Homo sapiens: one gene and its partners. The protein of the gene in region 3 purifies or fractionates together with the protein of the main gene of each other region. This does not show direct contact. Each region holds a gene or a part of one and is shown on either strand. Other genes may lie near its edges. The genes, in order: PCSK9, PCSK6 and MSTN.

Evidence for each region.
Region 1: the proteins of MSTN (region 3) and PCSK9 purify together in Homo sapiens (affinity purification with mass spectrometry; one large-scale study listed by BioGRID and IntAct). This does not show direct contact.
Region 2: the proteins of MSTN (region 3) and PCSK6 purify together in Homo sapiens (affinity purification with mass spectrometry; one large-scale study listed by BioGRID and IntAct). This does not show direct contact.

Annotation. Positions count from the first base shown.
Region 1 is NC_000001.11:55,042,548-55,046,047, forward strand, and holds part of PCSK9 (proprotein convertase subtilisin/kexin type 9 isoform 1 preproprotein), read left to right. Parts: intron 1-1,295; coding exon 1,296-1,487; intron 1,488-3,500.
Region 2 is NC_000015.10:101,487,376-101,491,207, reverse strand, and holds the start of PCSK6 (proprotein convertase subtilisin/kexin type 6 isoform PACE4-AI preproprotein), read left to right. Parts: upstream 1-1,500; 5' UTR 1,501-1,537; coding exon 1,538-1,834; intron 1,835-2,054; exon of another isoform or gene 2,055-3,832. UniProt on the Homo sapiens protein: Serine endoprotease that processes various proproteins by cleavage at paired basic amino acids, recognizing the RXXX[KR]R consensus motif.
Region 3 is NC_000002.12:190,057,335-190,059,831, forward strand, and holds part of MSTN (growth/differentiation factor 8 preproprotein), read right to left. Parts: intron 305-2,497; coding exon 1-304. UniProt on the Homo sapiens protein: Acts specifically as a negative regulator of skeletal muscle growth.

The DNA of each region.
Region 1 (3,500 bases), on a different chromosome or scaffold from region 3:
TCTGTTCTACTCTGACTGGAGTCCAAGATGCATATATACAGAGATATGGGTGATGGGGCTGCAAGGTAGGTTGAGGTAGGGGCCAAGGAGGAGCATGGAGTTTGGACTTGATTCATGAGGCTGTGGGGAGCCAGTGAAGGTTCTTAAGCAGGTATGTCTGCCTGAGAGCAGTTGGAGCAGACAAGAGCTAAAAACCAAACAAATCACCATAGATAGTGGCTGCTATAATTTGTTTGTCCCCTCCAAATCTCATGTGGAAATTTGGTCCTCAGTGTTGGAAGTGGGGCCTAATGGGAGGTGTTTGGGTCATGGGGGAGGAACCCCTGTGAAAGGCTTGGTGCCGTCCTTGTGATAATGAGTAAGTTCTCCCGCTATGATTTCCCTTGAAGGCTGATTATTAAAAAGAGCTTGGCACCTCCCTCTCTTCTCTCTTGCTTCTTCTCTTGCCATGTGATTGATCTCTGCACATGTAGGCTCCCCTTCACCTTCTGCCATCAGTGAAAGCAGCTTAAGGCCCTCACCAGAAGCAGATGCTGGTGCCATGCTTCCTGGAGAGCTTGCAGAATCATGAGCTGAATAAATCCCTTTTCCTTGTAAATTACTCACCTTCAGGTATTCCTTTATATAGCAACACAAAAGGACTAAGACAGTGGCCTTGACTTTTCTCTCTCTTTAAGAAGTGTTGCCTTTGCTCACTTAGTCATCCCTTCTGCCTGCATTTGTAGAGCATCTGGATGGGAGATTTATATAACCGTCACTCTTGACTTTCCCAGCAGGCCTATGTCATAGGTACTGTGGTCTCTACAATACAGCAGAGGTATCTGAGGCTCCGAGAGGTTGAGTGACTTGCTCATGGCTGCACAACCAGTAAATATTGGAGCTGGAATTCAGGTCCACGGTTTCCTGGCTCCAAAGCCCATGATTTTTTCCCTCAATTTATTCTGACTGGGGCATGGGGGAGGGGGTGGCCTTTGGGCAGGGCCACCAGGAGCGACCAGGCCCGTAGAGAGCTGGGTGCAGGTACAGAGGAAAACCTGTTGTCGAGTGTGGCCCGTAGTTCCCATTTTTGCCTGAATGGCACATTTGAAAGTGTTATATAACCATGTGAATAATAATAGTTGGCCTATATGAGTTCTTTAATTTGCTTTTTGGTCCGCATTTGGTAACTTCTTTATCATCTACTATACTCTGTTGTGTCTCTTTTGTTGTAATTTGTAAGTAGGGGTGAGATAAAGTACACCTAGGGTTTGCTGGGTTTCTTCCATGTCATCATGTTCCTCCTTGCATGGGGCCAGGATCCGTGGAGGTTGCCTGGCACCTACGTGGTGGTGCTGAAGGAGGAGACCCACCTCTCGCAGTCAGAGCGCACTGCCCGCCGCCTGCAGGCCCAGGCTGCCCGCCGGGGATACCTCACCAAGATCCTGCATGTCTTCCATGGCCTTCTTCCTGGCTTCCTGGTGAAGATGAGTGGCGACCTGCTGGAGCTGGTGAGCCACCCTTTTTGGGAATGGCACTTCCTGATAGGGCTGGGCCACTGCATATACACTGGGGACTGTGCTTAGTAGGCCCATTGCTGAAAATCAGAAGGGGACAGCAAGTATGTATTGAGCACTTATCGGGTACCAAGCACAGTAACTACTGGCTTTCTGTATAGAATTCCCTTTAAGCCTGGCCATGCCCCAGTGGTACGTCTATCTTCATTTGAAAGACGAGGAGACTGAAGTTCAGAGGGGACCACACAGACAGCTAGGGGTAGAGCCTGGATCAAACCCATTGGTCTGCCTGCCAGCCATTCTTGTGCCAATGCATCTGCTGCCTACGGAAACCTGTAGGGACAAGGCCCTGGGATGTTCAGTGGAGCCTGAGTCATTTTATAAAAAAGCATGACTCTAGGGTCCAAAATTCCTTTGAAGCTGTTGCTATCCAGAGTGAAGTCCCTTCTTTAGGACAGGGTGGCCCTCCTCCCTCCTGGATGTCACATCTTCGGTGGAGGGGCAGAAAGGGGACTGGGTATTCTCCTCACCCTGGCCCTAGTGCTTCAAATCTTAAAAAAACGTTTTTATTTGTGCTTCTGCACCACCTTCTAGCCCACCTCGTTTCCTGGCCTCTAACTTGATGAGAGCGTGTGTCATTTTCACACTGATTCTCCACATGGCAGGCGGTGCTTCTTAGCCTCCTGCAGACAGTGAGGCCCCACGGTCTTGTCCAAGGTCACACAGCGTGTAATGGGCAGGGTCAGAGTCTGGAGTCTGGACCTGGGTCTCCTAGCTGCACTGCACTGCTGCCCCATGGGTTAATCAGCTCAGCATACCGTGGCTGAACAGCTACCTCATACCAAGGCCTGTGGCGCCATGACAGGGATTGACAGGGTCCCTGCCTTGGAAACCCGTAGTCTAAGTAGAGGAGACTGACAAGTCAATGCCTTCCATCAGTCTGCTCAACACACGTTTACCAAGTGCCTACTGTGTGCTGCAGAGGCGAAGATGACACAGCTCAGGCCTTTCCCTTGAGCTTACAGTTCAGGAGGAGAGACTGACCAGTGACTGCCAGTACAGTTGACTATGGGACAATGTGCTCAGCCTTGGGGAGAGACGAAGAAGGTACCCGTATAGCACCAGATGACAGGCACGAGCCCCACAGGCCAGGGCAGCTGCTCAGAGGAGAGTAGGCCAAGCAGAAGGCAAACAGAAGGCTGCAGGCATTTGCCATCGAGAGCTGGACTTCAAACTGGGCATCATACCAGCCTGGGTTCGAGTCCTGCCCAGCCCCTTATTGGCTGTCTAACCCTGAGCAAATCCCTTCACCTCTCTGAGCCTCATTCCTCTATCTGTAAACCAGTTATAATAATTGGAACATTCATTTAAGGACTAAATGAGGTCGTGAAGCATTCAGCAGATGCTAGGTACGGAAACTCGCTGAAGTGGGGGCAGGTTAAGAAGCCTCTGGGGATACGAAGGCATCCAGGGACTAGTTGTGGCAGGAGGCTGTTACCACTTAGGTCTGAAGGGTAAGGAGAGGGAATAGCTTTCCCTCTGCCCAGTTGGAGCCGGTGGCATGGAGGAGAGGCTGCCTGTGGGGAATCACCCGAGGGTTCACCGCTGCCATGCGCAGGGAGTCAGGAGGTAGGGAGGGAGTGGGGCAGATGCACACCATTTTTTTTTTTTTTTGAGACTCTGTTGCCCAGACTGGAGTGCAGTGGTGCCATATCTGCACCTCTGCCTCCCGGGTTCAAGCTCACTGCAACCTCTGCCTCCCGGGTTCAAGCGATTCTCCTGCCTCAGCCTCCCGAGTAGCTGGGACTACAGGTGTGTGCCACCATGCCTGGCTAATTTTTGTATTTTTAATAGAGATGGGGTTTCACCATGTTGGCCAGGCTGGTCTCGAACTCTCGACCTCAGGTGATCCCCCACCTCGGCCTCCCAAAGTGCTGGGATTACAGGCGTGAGTCACCGCTCCCAGCTGCTGATGCACTCTTGTCCTTCTAACTCCTGCTAGTGCCT
Region 2 (3,832 bases), on a different chromosome or scaffold from region 3:
CTCCTGTTCTCCCACCTCCATTAGGGGTGACTCACACCTGAAGAAATGATGAATCACGTGGGTTACAAAACCAAAGGGCTCCTGAGAGCGAGGCTGGAAAGGACCTCGGAAACCATCTATGCAGATCCTGTCCTCAGCCCATCCCCTCTCGCCCCAGCCTCTCACCTCCAGCTGCCAAGCCACAGACTCCAAGTGAATCCTGCACGCTCAACAAGAGACCGCTCCTGGAACTGACCATCAGAGAAGCAGCTTCCTTCCCACCTCAAGGCCTTCTCGACCTTTTTGTTTTACTTCCTATATTAAGCAGGTTGATGGCTTGCTTTCTGGAAGTGGGCCAGTAGGACCAATGGGTCCTGGGAGGGATGACAGAAGAGATCCAGCAGCGATCCTTACCCTTCATAATTCCTTGATTATGGTGTGAACATTTCCATCCATCTCCAGGGTGCTTCAAATCATTATCCACTGGATACCAGGCTGCTCCAGGAAGCAGGGGTGAGGATGATTCAGCTGACTTTCTACTGCTGGTCCCAGCTCAGTGGGTGCTTTTAAGAGTGTACATCGTCTAGTGAACACCTACCACACGGCAGGCCCTGGGCTCATAAAAACGAACGTTTACGGACAGCTTATTGTACAGCAAAAGCTGACCTCATCCTCAAATCAGCCCGACGGGGTAGATGCCACTGTTCCCCGCATTTTGCAGGTGGGGCGCCTGCCCTCAGCCACCACAGTCATTTGCCCAAGATCGCAGCGAGGCTAAGCGGACGGCCTGGGGGTTCACCTGCACGGCCTGGGGGTTCACCTGCGCGGCCTGGGGGTTCACCTGCACGGCCTGGGGGTTCACCTGCGCGGCCTGGGGGTTCACCTGCGCGGCCTGGGGGTTCACCTGCACGGCCTGCCTCCCAGCATGGGCCGCGGCCTCCGCCATGGGCTCCGTGCGGTGGTTTCTCGGGTACACGCTCGTGAGCCCGGCTGATGCGCCACATGCCTTTGCCCCGCTCAATGTGTCCCTTCAGCCAGGCTTGGTCCCGGGCGACCCACTGTCTTCCCCGCAGCTTCTTCTCCCTGGGACCCCGCACACGGGCGAGCCCTCCGTCTAGGGAGGCGGGCGAGGCCGCCAGGCGTCTGAGGCCCCCGCCAGGTGAGTGCGGCCTTCGGGTGTCCGGCCGGTCTAGGGAACCGGGGACTCACCTGAGACGCCGGGGCCTCCCCGCTCCCAGCAGAACTCGCGGGCCGAGGACGCCTCTGGGGCGGCACCGCGTCCCGAGAGCCCCAGAAGTCGGCGGGGAAGTTCCCCCGGTGGGGGGCGTTTCGGGCCTCCCGGACGGCTCTCGGCCCCGGAGCCCGGTCGCAGGAGCGCGGGCCCGGGGGCGGGAACGCGCCGCGGCCGCCTCCTCCTCCCCGGCTCCCGCCCGCGGCGGTGTTGGCGGCGGCGGTGGCGGCGGCGGCGGCGCTTCCCCGGCGCGGAGCGGCTTTAAAAGGCGGCACTCCACCCCCCGGCGCACTCGCAGCTCGGGCGCCGCGCGAGCCTGTCGCCGCTATGCCTCCGCGCGCGCCGCCTGCGCCCGGGCCCCGGCCGCCGCCCCGGGCCGCCGCCGCCACCGACACCGCCGCGGGCGCGGGGGGCGCGGGGGGCGCGGGGGGCGCCGGCGGGCCCGGGTTCCGGCCGCTCGCGCCGCGTCCCTGGCGCTGGCTGCTGCTGCTGGCGCTGCCTGCCGCCTGCTCCGCGCCCCCGCCGCGCCCCGTCTACACCAACCACTGGGCGGTGCAAGTGCTGGGCGGCCCGGCCGAGGCGGACCGCGTGGCGGCGGCGCACGGGTACCTCAACTTGGGCCAGGTGAGTGCGGCCGGCCCCGCGCGCCCAAAACTTTCCCGGCGGCCTCCGGCGCGCGCGAGGGGGGCGCCTCCGCAGTCCTGTCCGCCCGGCCCCGGCCCCGCGCGCGCGTGGGAAGGCTCCGGGACCGCTTGGGGACGGCGGGCGGCCGGGGCGCCCTGCGGGGGGGGGTGTCGCCCGGGGGGGCGCGCGCGGGACACTCGGCGGGGTGGGGGGGACTGGGGTCCCGCGTGGGCGCCCACGCAGGTCCGGCGCGCCGACCGCAAGTCCCCCGGCAGTGCCGCCCAACCCCGCGCTCGGAAGTGTGGCCTCAGAAGCCGGGGCGGCGCGGACACCTGCCGGGCTCCGGGGGAGTCTGGGCTGCCTCAGGCGTCGCGCGCCGTCCGCCGCTGGGTCCTGGGCGCCCACCCGGCTCTCCCCCGCGGGGGAGCGGCCCCTCTGCCCTCGACGGGCGGCGCGAGCTCCGGACCCGGTGCGCGCGCCAAGGCGGCCGCGGCCGCTGCTTGGGTGACATGAGCGTGGCCCGGCGTCTCGGGGACTCGCGCTCCCTCGGTGTCCGCGGCTCCCGGGGGTAGATGGCCGGGAGCCTGCACCCTGGAGCCCGGCCGCCGTCGGAGAGGCCTTGGGACAGCGCAGGGCCGGGGGTCCTGGGTTTAAAACCTCTCCAGGAGCGGAGGGAGGGCGCTTTGTGTGGGGGCTTCTGCCGCGGTTCTGATGGCCGAGCGGTGTGACCTTTGGCAAGTCGCTCCCCTGACAAGCTCCTTTGCAGTCAGTGGCAATGTCTACACCGCTGGGTTGTCGGAAAGATCTAATGCTGCGTTGCCACAGAGCCTGGACCGGGGCCTGACCCTCACCGGCCCCCACGGGGCCCTCCCAGCCCCGCAGCCCTCGGCTGTCCCCTCTTCTGTCAGTGAGCAAGCAGGCCACGCCCTGGGCACAAAGGCGGCATTACCCTCAAAGGACCTCCCGGCGGGTCCCTTTTTCCTCTCTCAACCAGCTACCGGGCTGAGGGGCGGTGAGTTGGGGTTGATCCATGTTTATGGCTCCTGGAGAGGCCGTTATTTTGAGGTCACACCAGGGGACCTCTCAGTGCAGTTAACAAATCTACAAACTACACACTCAGAGGGTTAAGTGAAGTGACAGGGAAGCACCGACTCATAACTCTAAACCTTAGTGCCAGGCAGTGTTAAATGTAGTTTCATCGTTATCCGTGGCAGAAGCCAGCAAGGTGTGGTGGCGTCCCTGATTGATAGAAATGACATTAGTTCTGCATCCCAAGCCCCACGTTGATGTACTATTAGGTGTGTGGCTGGAGGGGTGGATTCCACCATTCGAATGAAGGAATCTTCACAAGGCAGGTTCGAGTTTACTGAAAGAATGCTAGCACATCTTTGGAGACCTTTTAAATATATGCATATATATATATAAAATGTTACATATATACACATATACACACATACATATACGCACATGTATATCCATATAGATATTTAGTTTTTTTAACCACTCAAGGCCCTCCAAACATCCTGTGATTTCAGATTTTGCCGTCGGGTAGCACTGACTTCGTTTGTCTCTGTAGTTCTTGACTCTCCCTGGCTGATTGTCCAGGCTGAAGAAGGTGTTCCTCATGTTTGCGTAGTGCCCCTGGCTCCTGCCACACTTCGCTGCTGTGCCCAGGTGGCCCAGCAATTTGTCTTCAGCTAAAAGTGACTCTTAAACTACGCGATAAATTACAAAGTGCCTGGGTTTTGGGATTCTAAAATTAAATGAGCAGAATGGAGCTGAAATTGAGCTGTGAGCTCACACTGCAAGAGAGAGGCAGAGAGGCACAGGTAACTCTCCCCGGAAATTTCTATCTGTGGGAATAAAAATGCCTAACCCTTGGCCATGCCGCCCCTTTGAGACAACCTCTGTCAGGCTCACTGAGTTCTTAGTGCAGTCTGCTCTCCTGGTTTTGCGGATGGGAGAGAAGATTCGCCCCGATGCACACTCCGTACCCAG
Region 3 (2,497 bases):
GCATATTAATTGGAGACATCTTTGTGGGAGTACAGCAAGGGCCTGCTGAACCTCTGGGGTTTGCTTGGTGTACCAGATGAGTATGAGGATATTTTTGTAAAAATACAAATTCACACTCTCCAGAGCAGTAATTGGCCTTATATCTTTTAGGAGCGATAATCCAATCCCATCCAAAAGCTTCAAAATCCACAGTTAGAGGGTAACGACAGCATCGTGATTCTGTTGAGTGCTCATCACAGTCAAGACCAAAATCCCTTCTGGATCTTTTTGGTGTGTCTGTTACCTTGACCTCTAAAAACGGATTCTGTTTGAAAAGGAAAGAACAATCAGTAATATCAATAGGCCTGGAAACACTTTTCTACCTACCTTAAGAAGTTATTGTTGAAGTAATAAACTAATAATTTTGCTCATACCACATTTATTTTTAAAAGGCACAGCATTAAGGAATGTTAATTTACACTAGGCTTGATTTTCCCCTTATGTCTCAAAAGAATTTAACAGCAATACAAATTCCCCTAAGGTCAGTACCATGTCTTTTTAAGTTTTATTTTTCCAAGTTTGAGTACCAGATTGCCTGGCACATAATGGATGTCCTGAAAATATTTATGGGAAGAAAGGGAGGGAAGGAAGAAAGGAGAGAGAGAGGAGAAGAAGAAGTGGGGAATGAAGGAAAGAGCTAACAGCTCCCTCTCTTCTTGCTTCCTGATTAAATATGTTGGCTAAATATGCCTGGTAACTCCTGGAGGGTTAGGTATAGTCATCCATCCTCCTCACTCAGGAAAACTTGGACAATAAAACCAGGGCAAAATAGGGAAGGACAAATTCAGAAGAAGAGACGATGATATTTCCTTTATTCTTTCACTGGAAAATGTTTCTATTCAGGTATTTAAAAATTTGTTGATTCTGTCTCTGCCCCAATCTTTTAATGCATTTGAGACTTTGTTTCCCTTTACATGAAAAAATCTGAGGAACACAACATATTAACCACTGGACATATTATCAATTTTGATCATTAAAATTCTACCTATAAAAAGGAACACTTTCTTAAATAATTGACAGTAGTTTTTAACCCATATCTAAATGAAAATAGCTCTGGCAGTGTTATTTAAGACTGTCAAAAATAATAATATCATTTTGGGAGTCATTAACATTTAAAGTAGCATATATAAAGGAAACTAGATCATTTAGAAAATTGTATAGTCTTTTAGACACCTGCACACGTATGTTTATCGCAGCATAATTCACAGTTGTAAAGATATGGAACCAGCCTAAGTGCCCATCAGCGGATGAATGGATAAAGAAAATGTGGTATATATACACCATGGAATACTATTTAACCATAAAAAAGAGTAAAGGAATGTCTTTTGCAGCAAATTAGATGGAGCTGGAGGCCATTATTCGAAGGGAATGGAAAACCAAATACCATACGTTCTTACTTACAAGTGCGAGCTAAGCTATGCGTACGCAAAGACATACAGAGTAGTATAAGGTACTTCGGAGACTCAGAAAGGGATGAGGGATTAAAAACTACATATTTGGTACAATATACACTACTTGGAGTGATGGGTGCACTAAAACCTCAGACTTCACCACTGTACAATTCATCTATGTAGCCAGAAACCACTTGTACCCCCCAACATATTGAAGTAAAACATGTGTGTGTGTGTATAAATATATATATACACATATATATAATAAAGTAATAAAAATGAAAAAATATTGTATAGTATTTTAAAGAATGTTTTATTTAGAGTAGATCTGATCTGCTAATTATATCATCTTTATAACTAAGATCATTGAATGATTACAAAGGTAACAGGTTTGTTGTTTACAAGTATAATCTTCTTTTGTAAATTATATCAATAGATGAACGTAAAAAGATGTGATCACATTAAGTATTTGAAAACAGAAATTTAGGTAAGCCAGAAGAGTAACCCTAAATTTGTACTAGGAATTAAAATGGTTTTTATTAATTTTTGTGATATATAAGGTATTGTCATTTACTTGGCCTGGTACTAAATTAGTCGGCCTTCCCTGAGTAAATTTTTGCACAAGAATGCTAAGGCAGCTCAGAAATAAGCTAGGTGGCAAAGGTTAACTAGTATGTAACTTGAAATTTTATTAGGAGTATTCCACAAAGAAATATATACACACATCAGTGCATCAACATCCTACAAATAATGAACATATTTATCTTGAGAAACCTTAAATATATTTAATAAAGTATAAGCCTATAAATATCACTCTTAATTTCTCTGAATAAAACATTTAATTATAATTTTAAAAGGTTTATCTGTTTTATGCTAAGCCAAAAATCTTTAACACATTTGGCACCCTTCTGGGAGAAAAAAATAATGTTTGGATTTGTTGGTTTATGTGGTAAAATCCACTATATAGAGTTAATATTTTAATACATACAGTCATGTATCATATTAATGAAAAGCACTTTATATTTCATTCCCAATTCAAAAGGACTTCTTAAGAAGTTAAGAAGTAT